Homo sapiens: one gene and its partners. The protein of the gene in region 3 interacts with the protein of the main gene of each other region in a biochemical or structural test. Each region holds a gene or a part of one and is shown on either strand. Other genes may lie near its edges. The genes, in order: MAGI1, ARHGAP21 and IQSEC2.

The links.
Region 1: the proteins of IQSEC2 (region 3) and MAGI1 interact in a test that uses a peptide from one of them, tested with the Homo sapiens proteins (one large-scale study listed by IntAct).
Region 2: the proteins of IQSEC2 (region 3) and ARHGAP21 interact in a test that uses a peptide from one of them, tested with the Homo sapiens proteins (one large-scale study listed by IntAct).

Annotation. Positions count from the first base shown.
Region 1 is NC_000003.12:65,430,339-65,434,029, forward strand, and holds part of MAGI1 (membrane-associated guanylate kinase, WW and PDZ domain-containing protein 1), read right to left. Parts: intron 544-3,691; coding exon 361-543; intron 1-360. UniProt on the Homo sapiens protein: Plays a role in coupling actin fibers to cell junctions in endothelial cells, via its interaction with AMOTL2 and CDH5. May regulate acid-induced ASIC3 currents by modulating its expression at the cell surface.
Region 2 is NC_000010.11:24,713,771-24,717,461, forward strand, and holds part of ARHGAP21 (rho GTPase-activating protein 21), read right to left. Parts: intron 1-3,691. UniProt on the Homo sapiens protein: Functions as a GTPase-activating protein (GAP) for RHOA and CDC42. Downstream partner of ARF1 which may control Golgi apparatus structure and function. Also required for CTNNA1 recruitment to adherens junctions.
Region 3 is NC_000023.11:53,234,351-53,237,919, forward strand, and holds part of IQSEC2 (IQ motif and SEC7 domain-containing protein 2), read right to left. Parts: intron 3,167-3,569; coding exon of another isoform or gene 3,147-3,166; exon of another isoform or gene 2,823-3,146; coding exon of another isoform or gene 2,815-2,822; exon of another isoform or gene 2,152-2,814; intron 2,146-2,151; coding exon 1,972-2,145; intron 1,483-1,971; coding exon 1,433-1,482; intron 1,209-1,432; coding exon of another isoform or gene 1,137-1,208; exon of another isoform or gene 866-1,136; intron 835-865; coding exon 1-834. UniProt on the Homo sapiens protein: Is a guanine nucleotide exchange factor for the ARF GTP-binding proteins.

The DNA of each region.
Region 1 (3,691 bases), on a different chromosome or scaffold from region 3:
GAATGTAATAATCACTCACAGAACATTGGAGCTTTCTCCTAAAAAAAAATCTCACTGCAGAAATCCAAGTTTAGAATTCATTTATTTAAATGGGGATCTACAGTTTTAGTAACTCATTGCTTTACTGTACTCAAACAGTTTCCCAAACTTAAAATGACTTCACAGGTTTTAATCTGTCCCAAGGGATGAATTTATGTAATGTGGAGACCTGGCTCATTCTCAAGGTGTTTAAAGCTGTAAACATGTGCAATCATGACGTTGCTTGGTCTTGCTCAAACAAACAACATCATGATTGCACATGTTTATCTCCTGGATTGGAGTCTCACCACACAGAACACACTAAGGCCATGTTGACGCTACCTGTTTCCATCTTGCCATCCAATGCAGCAGGACCATCTAGGACCAAGCTCTTGATCTGGAGAAACTCATCAGGTTCATCCCCTCCAACCACCGTGAAGCCAAAGCCACGACTGCTTTTCCGCAGCTTTGTGTGAATGAACTTGCCTTTCAACTCAGAAGGGTTTCGTGTAAAAAAGGGTTTGCCTGGATTAAAATAAGAAACGCATAAGGAATGTCACCACTGGTGAAAAGGAGAATTAAACAAGATTTGAGACAACATATAGATAATTCTTCACGCTTATGCCCTAGAGCCTTTGGGCATATAGCATCTTAAGAAAGTCCTCTCTTAATTTGAGGAATAAGGATGTTCCTAGGCCCCAGTGTTGATGGAGGGAGGTAAAGCATTGAGTATGTCAACTCCAGGGTCCAAAAGAAACTACAAGAGAGGGATGAAACTAGTCCCTGTCAGGTGACACACTTCTTGGTTTCCATTCATGCACTTTGACAGGAATTGAGCTGCCACAAACCCCTTCACAGAAAATGGAACTGGTCTGTTTTATGTCTTTTGTTTTGTTTTAATTTTATTTTGCTATATGGCTTCTGATGTGCTGCTTTGGGCCTGGCTTCCACTTGAAAAACCAACAGAACTAATCAAACGGAAAATCCAGGCTGAAAATGCACAGATAATACCAGAAAACATATTATAGTCACAAATAATAATTTGACAAAAATGTAGAATGACTATTTTCAAAATTAAGGGTCATTACTTTGAATTGAATTCTAAATTCAACTGATTTTTTCCTATTTATCTGATCTTTTATTAAATTTGTGATATAGCCAACGCATGCCTAGGGCTAAGAATTACTGTTTAAAACAAGTTTAGGATATTTGTTTAAAAAACACAAACCAAAAAAACAAACAAAGAAACCCCCCCCACAACACACACACACAAAATCCCTAAACTAAGTAGTTACTAACAGTAGCCACACAGCTCCAAATTCAGCTGTCTTATTTAAAATAAATTAGGCTGGGGGTGTGGTGGCTCATGCCTGTAATCCTAGCACTTTGGGAGGCTGAGTCAGGTGGAGCACTGAGGTCAGGAGTTCAAAACCAACCTGGCCAACATAGTGAAATCCTGTCTCTACTAAAAAAAAAAAATACAAAAATTAGCCAGATGAGGTGGTGGATGCCTGTAATCCCAGCTACTTGGGAGGCTGAGGCAGGACAATCACTTGAATCCAGGAGGTAGAGGTTGCAGTGAGCTGAGATTGCGCCATTGCACTCCAGCCTGGGCAACAAGAGCAAAACTCTGTCTCAAAAAAATAATAAAAATAAAATAAATTTACAGATAGAGGTATCGCTAAATTATTTCCAAACATGCTACCTAAGGTTTTATTGAGTTTTCTTGATACATTCACAAATAACATTTTGAACATAAACCAAAACGTTTTCTTTTGGGTTTTACTAGGCACTTCTCTGTAATTGAGAAACTTACTGGAACTTCTCTGATTATCCCAAGTAGTAGACCTAATTTCATGAGCAGCTTCTTTCATCTCTTCTAACTTTACTTACTTCTTATACCCTGTCCTTGCCACACACAGCTTCTCCATCTGCCCTGTTTCTTTTCTATCAAAAATGTTATCCAAAACAAAAAGAGAGAGAGAAAGAGGGAGACATTAGTCCCCTACACCCCTGTACTAGGAGCCTGGCACCTAGGAAAGAAAGTTATTTTTGGTTAGTTATATCTAAAAGAGTTTAAAAGGTCTCTGGGCATGCATACAATTTTTAATTGCATATTTTAAAAGTTTCTGGCTCTTGCAAAGAAGGCTCTTTTAAATTGCCTGCAATCAGAGGTCCTTTCGCTAACCTGCTCTCTAGCGCAGTCCCAAAGCTTATTGGAAGGTTGACAAACTACAGCCCTGTCATAGTGGCTAAAGAAAGGCAAGACTTACAAGGATTCGCCACGCAAAGTCATCTGCCAAGGCGTTGGGAGGGTGGTGTCACTTGCACCAAGAGCTTTGGGGAGACAGCTGCCAAGACAATTATCAGATGGAAATTGAGGTGAGGTAAGATAACCCCCAAAGTTTACTTTAGGGGGAGGAGGGTGACTGGCCTACACTCTTGTAGCAGGTGCTGCTAGGGCATTCCAGGGCCCTGAAGGGAAACACATTTCAGTTATGCAGAGACATCAACAGCCATTACCTTCGCAGCAAGACCTTCCCTAACCACCTTACTAAAAATTGCAGTACCTCCAACATTCCCAATCCCTTTTTCCTGCTTTATTTTTGTCCTTAGCATTTACCACCTTCCAAAAGAATATACATCTTACTTATTGCTTTGGTTTTCTTACTATCCCCAACTCCCATGCATGAGTGGCATTGATATGCAGGTACATAAAACCACTAGAATGTTAGCTCCATGAGGATTTTTATACGTATATCAAGTATCTAGAATATTGTCTGGTACATTTTATGTGCTCCAAAAATTTCTGTTGAGTGAGAGAATGAATGAACAAATAAAAGCACACAGAAATGATATTTATCATGTCTTTGAGAAGGCTGAAAAGAGGTGTTTGGTTGTTGGAGCTTTTCACTCTTATTATAGGCTAAGTTAGAAAACGTGAAAATGTGCCTGGCAGTTTATCTACTTAAAAAAAAATACATTAGCATATTTTGTGCTGAGAATGTTAACTTAATAAAGACATGAGCAGAGCTTTGAAATTATACGACTGACTTCCTTTTCCAATGTTTAACAAGGGAAGGAAAATCAGAGGGTTTCACATTTATGCACATTTTATTATTTTTTACGTATGGGTGGATCATTAGTTAATGTAGCTTTTGGAAAGAAACGCTTTTCACCCCATAAGCAGTGGAATTTGGAGCTCTCAGCTGCAGCCCTGTGGTACATGTAATTTTCTAAGATCCTAACCTCTGTTTACCAGTCACCAGCGGTAAGACTTGGTTGTGTCTTACCCAGGGAAAATCCCCTGGGTAGCTTTTTAAAATGTACTCATTTTCACTTCCTTCCTTAGACTCACTGATCAGGATGTTCTGGGTCTTGGCCCAAAACTCTGCACCTGAATGAACCTTAGGTGCATGTTTCCCTGCCAGGATGGGGGGAGGGGAAAGAAATGTCACTTCTTGACACTAGTGTTTAAATACCCTAGACCAGTACCGTCTAATGGCACTTTCCGTGATGATGGAAATGCTCTGCACCTGCACTGTTCAATATGGCAGCCACTAGTCACATGTAGCCACTGAGCCCTTGAAATATGGCTAGTGAGACAGAAAAACTTAATTTTTTGATTTTTTAACTGTAATTCATTTAAATTTAAATGGCAACATGTAACCAT
Region 2 (3,691 bases), on a different chromosome or scaffold from region 3:
CCCACATCAAGTTTCTCAAACCTATAGTACAATATATCCATTTGTCTTTTGGATTATTTGAGAAGCACAAAATGCCATCATCCAGATTAGATTGTGAAATAATTTGCACAATACCCAATTTTATAAGAACATGGCAACTTAAACCATAAAACTATTTTAGTGAAAGCAATCCAAAATTGAGTTTTTTGCATTTAGATATCTTTCTACTTCAAACCAGGGAAGATATGGAAGGCTTACAATATTTTAACACATTTAATTACTTACAGTCAATTAAAATTAGATAAAATAGTAGGACAATCTTTAAGTCCAATAACCTTTCGTTTTAGTAATCTAATCACATCAACTAGACAGAAAAACAAGTGCCTACCATATGGTCTTTCTGTAACAGAAAATAGCTGCATTGAATAACAGCATCTGTGCATCTTATCAACGCTAGCATTGCCCATACTTAAATCAGCATATTGTTAACTATAATAAGAAGACAGGACCCTTCACAAAGCAAAGAACAAAAGAAACTGAATATTACCTTTGTGCTAGATTACTTGACCTGGTAGTAACTAAAGAAATGAAGAACATCAAGGCACAATGAACTTCATAAAACGCTTAACCTGGAAGAAATGAATGGGAAGGAACACTAACAATTTACGGAGAAATTCTTTAGATCTGGGTACTCACTTTGCTGATGGCTCTTATCTAGTGATAGGCCCCACTCAATACATTAAAATCCAGGCTTCTGCCGAAATGCCACTTAATGATCCCTGCTGCTGCTACTGCCATCATTCTCAATTCTAACAGGTTTTAGCTTTAACCCTAACTTGCAGCATAAAACTTTTGGCATGGAACAGTATTCTGACACTTAAATTCAGGTGTATGAAGAAACACAAAATTAAAATTAAATAATAGAGTTATACCATACTGTAACTAGTCTAGAATGAATCCTATGCCTCCAATGAAGAAACTTGCTTTTTAAAAATTGTTTTTTGGCCGGGCACGGTGGTTCACGCCTGTAATCCTAGCACTTTGGGAGGCCACAGTAGGCAGATCACAAGGTCAGGAGATCGAGACCATCCTAACACGGTGAAACCCCGTCTCTACTAAAAATACAAAAAATTAGCCAGGCATGGTGGCGGGCGCCTGTAGTCCCAGCTACTCGGGAGGCTGAGGCAGGAGAAAGGCATGAGCCCGCGAGGCAGAGCTTTCAGTGAGCCAAGATCACGCCACTGCACTCCAGCCTGGGCGACAGAGTGAGAGTCCATCTCAAAAAAAAAAAGAAAAGAAAAGAAAAGAAAAAGAAAAAATTGTTTTTTAAGTGTTGCTTTGAGCAGTGTGTATGCTTTTTAGTATTGTTTTAAGCAGTGTAGGTTTGCCACAAACCAAATTTTCACAAGACTGAATACATATTACCTATTTTTAAAGTCTATACATAGTGTTCTTTTATTGTCATTTTGGTAATAAAAAAGAGAAAATGTAAAAATAATATAATCCTGATATTCTCATCATTCAGAATAAACAACTGTTAACATTTCATCACGGTCAATGTTTGTGATCTTTTTTTAACTGGTTATGAAATATTTATGACATGAAAAAATAAAAATACATAATAAGGAACATCCATATACTAGCCATTCGTTTTAAGAAATAAAACATCATCCATACAGATTATCTTTTTATAGCTTCTCTTATCGACCAGTCTGATTGCCCTTTCACTTGTCTGTTAATTATCATGATCTCATCTCTTAGTGGAAATTGTTTCATACATTTGTACTACACATTGTCTTGGTTACTGTTACTTGGTTACCAGCTTCCCAAAGGTAAAAAAGGTGCAAAGAAAAAAGGCACCAAAAATTTTAACAGCAGTTCTAACGGAAATGAAATAGAATTTAAGGTGGGCAGGAGGTCTAAGGAAGAACATATTTCATACTGTACATATTTTATATAAACTAAAATAAGTATTCAGCTGGGCGCAGTGGCTCACACCTGTAATTCCAGCACTTTGGGAGGATGAGGTGGGTGGATCACTTTGAGATCAGGAGTTCGAGACCAGCCTGGGCAACATGGCAAAACCCCATCTCTACTAAACATACAAAAATTAACCAGGCATGCTGGCACACGCCTGTAATCCCAGCTACTCAGGAGGCTGAGGCAGGAGAATCACTTGAGCCTGGGAGGCGGAGGTTGCTGTGAGCGCAGATTGCACCACTGCACTCAAGCCTGCGTGACAATGCAAGGCTCTGTCTCAAAAAGAAATAAAATAAATAAGAATTCACATACTACATGTCCAAATGCAAACTCAGTAACATTTTGGAGTTTTGCTAAGTCTTTATTCATTCCAAAAACATATTTATTGACAACCTATTATGTGCTAGGCACTCTTCTAGGCACAAGAAACACAATGTGAACAAAACAGACAAACTGCACTCTCAACACCTGCGTTCTAGATATATTACCTGTCTCAAATAAACAAACAAAATCAAATGCATAAGCATGCCGGGTGGAGACTAAGTGATAGGGAGATAAAGCAAGGAAGGAAGGCAGAGCATGGCACAGGGAGCAGGGGAGGGGCATTCAACAAAGGGAGTGGTTGGCAAAGCTTCACTCGGAAGGTGACCTCTAAGCAAAAGCCCGAAGGAGCCAAGGAAGCAAGCTGTGCAGAGACTGGGGGAAGTGTTCTAAGGGGAGGGTTCAGTGAGTGGGAAGGCTCTGGGGACTCCCACGTTTGTGTACATGCAGAAAAGCAAGAGACCAGAATGGCTAGCACAGAGTGAGGCGGGAAGAGGCACAGGAGGTGCGCTCAGGGAGGGGGAAGGACCAATTATACAGGGCTTTGCAGGTCACTGCAAGAACTTTGGCCTTCAATCTTCAGAGAAATGAGAAGCCATTTGAGGAATTTGAGCAAAGGAATGACACAACTTGATTTATAAATTGTCTGTCCTGATTGCTGTGTGGAGAACAGGCTTTAGGCTGGCAAGGACTGAAGTGGAGAAATCAGTCAACCAGATCCACATGTCATATATGAGAAAAAAGAGAGACATCAAAGATCACTCCAAGATGCCTGGCCTGGAAGGATGGGATTGCTATTGCTTGAGATGAGGAAGACTGGAAGGAGCATACTTGGGAAGGTGGGCCAGGGGAATGGAGGTAGAGTCAGGATTGTGGTTTTAGATATGCCTATTTACTATTCAAATGGAGATTCTAGGCAGTCAGGTCAGTTGGATATAGGAATCTGATTCTGCGAGACAGAGGAGCAGGTCAGCAATAGAGATATACACATGTACACATAAAGAAATATAAGTGAGTGTGTGTGTGTCAATTATCTGCATATACTTGATATTTAAAACCATGAAACAGTATTGGGAGAAGAAATGAGGATTAACTGAGCTTTGAGGTGTAGAAAGGTTTAGCAAATCAGGATGTCGAGGAAACCTCAAAGAGACAGAAGGAGGTGACAACGAGGAAGGAAGATAATCAAGAGAGTATAATGTCCGGGAATCTAAATGAACACTGAATAAAATGTAAAGCCTTTCCTGCATATTCATTTATTCATTCAAAAAATATCACCTGACACTTACTATGTGTCAGTCCCTGTGGAAACAAACATGGTCCCTGCTCTTATAGGGACTGCAATCCAAGGGGGATATAGATAAACTTGTAACTGGTATTCCTGAAAGTGCAGGGTGTTTTGAGAGAATAC
Region 3 (3,569 bases):
AGGGGAGGGTGGGGGGAGGGGTGGATAGGAGGGGTGGGGTGGGATGGGTGAGTGTGGTGACAATGGTGACTGGGGGTGGTGGGGGTGGGAGTAGGAGCCCCCTGGTGGCCGGGATCCAGGGCCCCCAGCCGCGCCTGCTGCTGGCATCATCTGTGGGTGGTGGCTGAAGATGAAGTGCTTAGGGCCCTGTTTGTGGGCTGGAGGGTGCTGGGGGGCAGGACTGTACAGGGGCAGTGGGGATGTGGGCTGGTGCAGGGGGTGGCGGCCATGTGGAGCAAACTGAGGGTGTCCTCCAGCCCCCCGTCTGGGTGCCCTGCCTGGCCGGCCCAAGGTATAGTGTTGGGGCCCTGGGACTGGGCCATGGGCGTGGAAGTGGCGATGTGGCCCCACAGGTGGGGCTGAGGCGGGAGGCGGTGGAATGGAGCCCAGCTGGGGCAAGGGTGGGGGCTGCTGGGGAGGTGGGGGAAGAGAGGGCTGCTGGGGTGGGAGGTAGGGTGGCGGGGCAGGGCCCGGTCCTTGGCAATACTGGGCATGCAGGGCCTGGAGCTTGGACTGCCCATCAGGCAGCACCCCCAGGCCACCGTGGCTATGGCCATGATGGTGGTGGTGGTGGTGGTGGTGCGTGGAAGAAGCAGATGAAGAGGAGGCAGAGGCCTGGCCTGTTGGCGGTGGTGGCATCTGGAAGGGCCCCTTGCCCCGCTTGCTTCCAAATAGGGAGCCCAGGAAGGATGAGGAGTTGGAGACGGGCCTCTGGCTCTTGTACTCCTCTGGCGGCGGGGGTGGGGGCGGAGGTGGCATCCTCTGGTGAGGGCGTGGACTGCTAATAACAGACCCCTGGAAGCGGGGAGGGGGGAAGTCAGGCCAGGCTAGATGCCCTAAACCCCCAGCCCTAAATTCCACCCCTGTCCCTGAGGGCTGGAGCTGGGGAGACAGCAAACCCCAAGTTGTAATAAAAACCAAATCACAGTCCGGTACGCGTATGTGGAGCTCCCCAGCTTGCAAAGCTCGGCTGTCACATCCACTATCTCAGCTGAGCCTCAGCTGGGAGAGGAGAAATTAGCAGTACCTCCTCCTCATCCCCATTTTGCAGGCAGGGAAAAGGTTAGGCCCAGAGAGGCAGAGTGACTCGCCCAGGGTCAAAGAGCAGGACTTGGAGGTAAGAGCTTCTCGTGGCCCAACTCCAAGGGCATCCCTACTCGCCGTCGGCCCTGGGGTTGAGAGGGGGCACGGGAGAGTGGAAGACAGACTGAGAGACAGGCAGAATGAGGACAGACAGAGTTGAGGACAGATGGAGAGAGTGGTTGGCTGGGAGAGGCAGCCGCATGGTTCCCAGCAGGGAAGAGGGGGAGCAACAGGTCCCCTCCTCCTCTGGGTCTCCATGGCCGGGGCAGGGCTCATGCAGAGGACGAGTGGGGCAGGAGCTGGCACTTACTTCGATGGTGCTGTCCAGCGATCCCACGCTGTTACGCCGCCCCCGCTTCCCTGCACCCACAAGCAAGGAGCCCAGCGTCAGAGCAGCAACCCCCCCCCTACCCTGCTGGGCTCCAGAGCTGGGCACCAGGACTGGGCCCCTCCCGGGGACAGACACCCCATTATCCCTTTCCCCCATTGAAGAGGGGGAGGCGGGGAGGAGGAGAGGTGGAGAAGGAGGAGAAAGAGGAGGAAAAGATGGAGAAGGAGGAGTGGAGGTACAGGAGAGACAGAAGAGGGAGAAGAGGAGGAGAGGGGGAGCAGCGAGAGAGAGGGACCAAGACTGTGGCCCCACTTCACACTCCCTGGCCCAAAAGCTGGGCTCCCCCTGCTCTGACCTGGCTCCCAGGCCCCCTGTGGCGCAGCGCCCAGGGCTCTGGGTGAAGGCAGGGTGCGTGCATGTGTGGCAGGTGGAGGGAAGGCTGGCGGCCAGTGACAGGAGGCAAAGAGGACACCCGGTCCCGTGTCTCCCCAGCCAGGGCAGGGGCCCAGAGGGCTTACCTGCATCAGAGAGGTCTCGCAGGGAACTGCTGAGTGCGCCCCGTTTGAGCCCATCGCCTGCCCCGTAAGTGTCCTCCAGGCTACTGCGGGCCATCGTCCCATTCACTGAGTCCTTGGCCCCTCCAGGCTGTGAGGCGTTAGGCCGCATCATACCTTTCTGCTTCTCCAGCTCCGCTGGGTGGCAGTCGGGGAGACAGGGAGCAAAGGTCAGGAACAGGAGTGAGAGCCCATCTGACTGACCCTAGCCCTCCATGGGCCATTCTCCTTCCTCCTCCCTCCTCCCTCCCTCTGTCCCCAGGCTTCGTGTTTTGCCCCTTGGACGACCAGCCCTTGTCTCCCCCAAAACTGCAGCTCCATCACCGAAGCACCCTTAGTGCCCAGCTCCTGTCTTGCACCCTCCCTTCCTGCTCAGCCTTCCCTTCATCCCTCTTGGTGCCTGCTCTCCCTGTTCCCTTTCCCTTCCTTTCACCCTTCTGACTTCTCCCCTCCCATGCCCTCTTGCAATCAGGTCTCCCAAAGCACCCCTGCCCTTCAAAAAAGAGCTTCATGGCAGATGGTTCACAGTAAGGATGGTAAGGCCCTTCTAGCCTATGGCAAAGGGCAATCTTTCCAGAGTTCAGTCAGTTCTCAGATACCTTGCTCCGGAGCAGAGGGGCTCCTGGAAGGGCAGGAGCAGGAAACTGACAGGAATCAAATCCTCTTATTATGTGCCAGGCAGTATGCTGGGCGCTACACATACTTGATCTCTCTCAGTCCTCACAACAGTTCTGAGGTCAGTATTAGCATCCACATTGTGCAGAGGAAGAAACTGAGTATCCGAGAAGTCTTAGAGCTTGCCCAGGGTCATACAGCTGGAAATGGCAGAGCCGACATTCTGGAAGCAGGTCTGCCTGATTCCAGAGCTTGGGTGCTTCCGGCCTCCTACAGCCCCACCTCCCCACGGAGCTCATAGAAACACGTGTCTACTGGCCTCCCCTCGTCTTGGGCTACTAATCCCTCTCTCAGGATTTCCCCAGGGTCTCAAAGGATCTGGTGAACTGAAATTTCTATCCCTGCCTCGCTGAGAAGTAGAGTGGCCCTGGAGCTGTGAAGGCCTCACCAAGGAGCTGTCCGCCGCCTCGTCTCTGTCTGCCTGCCTCTTTCTCCTTAACACCATGTTACTTAACTGTGACTGCTTAGCCTGGAGAAGAGAAAACTTGGAGGGCATCGGGAGGAATGAGATGTAATCACTATTTTCCATTATATATATATGATCAAAATGACTTGGTGTGGCCCCTGGGGGCTGAGAGGATAGCCCACTGGGATTCAGCTCAGGAATTGATATGTGGGCAGAGGAGGAGAGAGGGTGGGACAGGAAATACGGATTTTTTGAATGCCTAAGATGTGTTGGGACATTTCGGCTACCTTGTCTCATTTCATCTCCATGACTCTGTGAAGGAGACTTCATTACCCCAATTTCGTATAGGAAGAAACTGGGGCTTGGCAGGTTAGGCAATTTGCTGCAGTTCACCCAGATAATGAGTAGTATACCTGGGATCTAAAACTATAGTCCTACCTCCAATACTCTGATTCTTCTCCCTGATACCTTTCACTAGAAG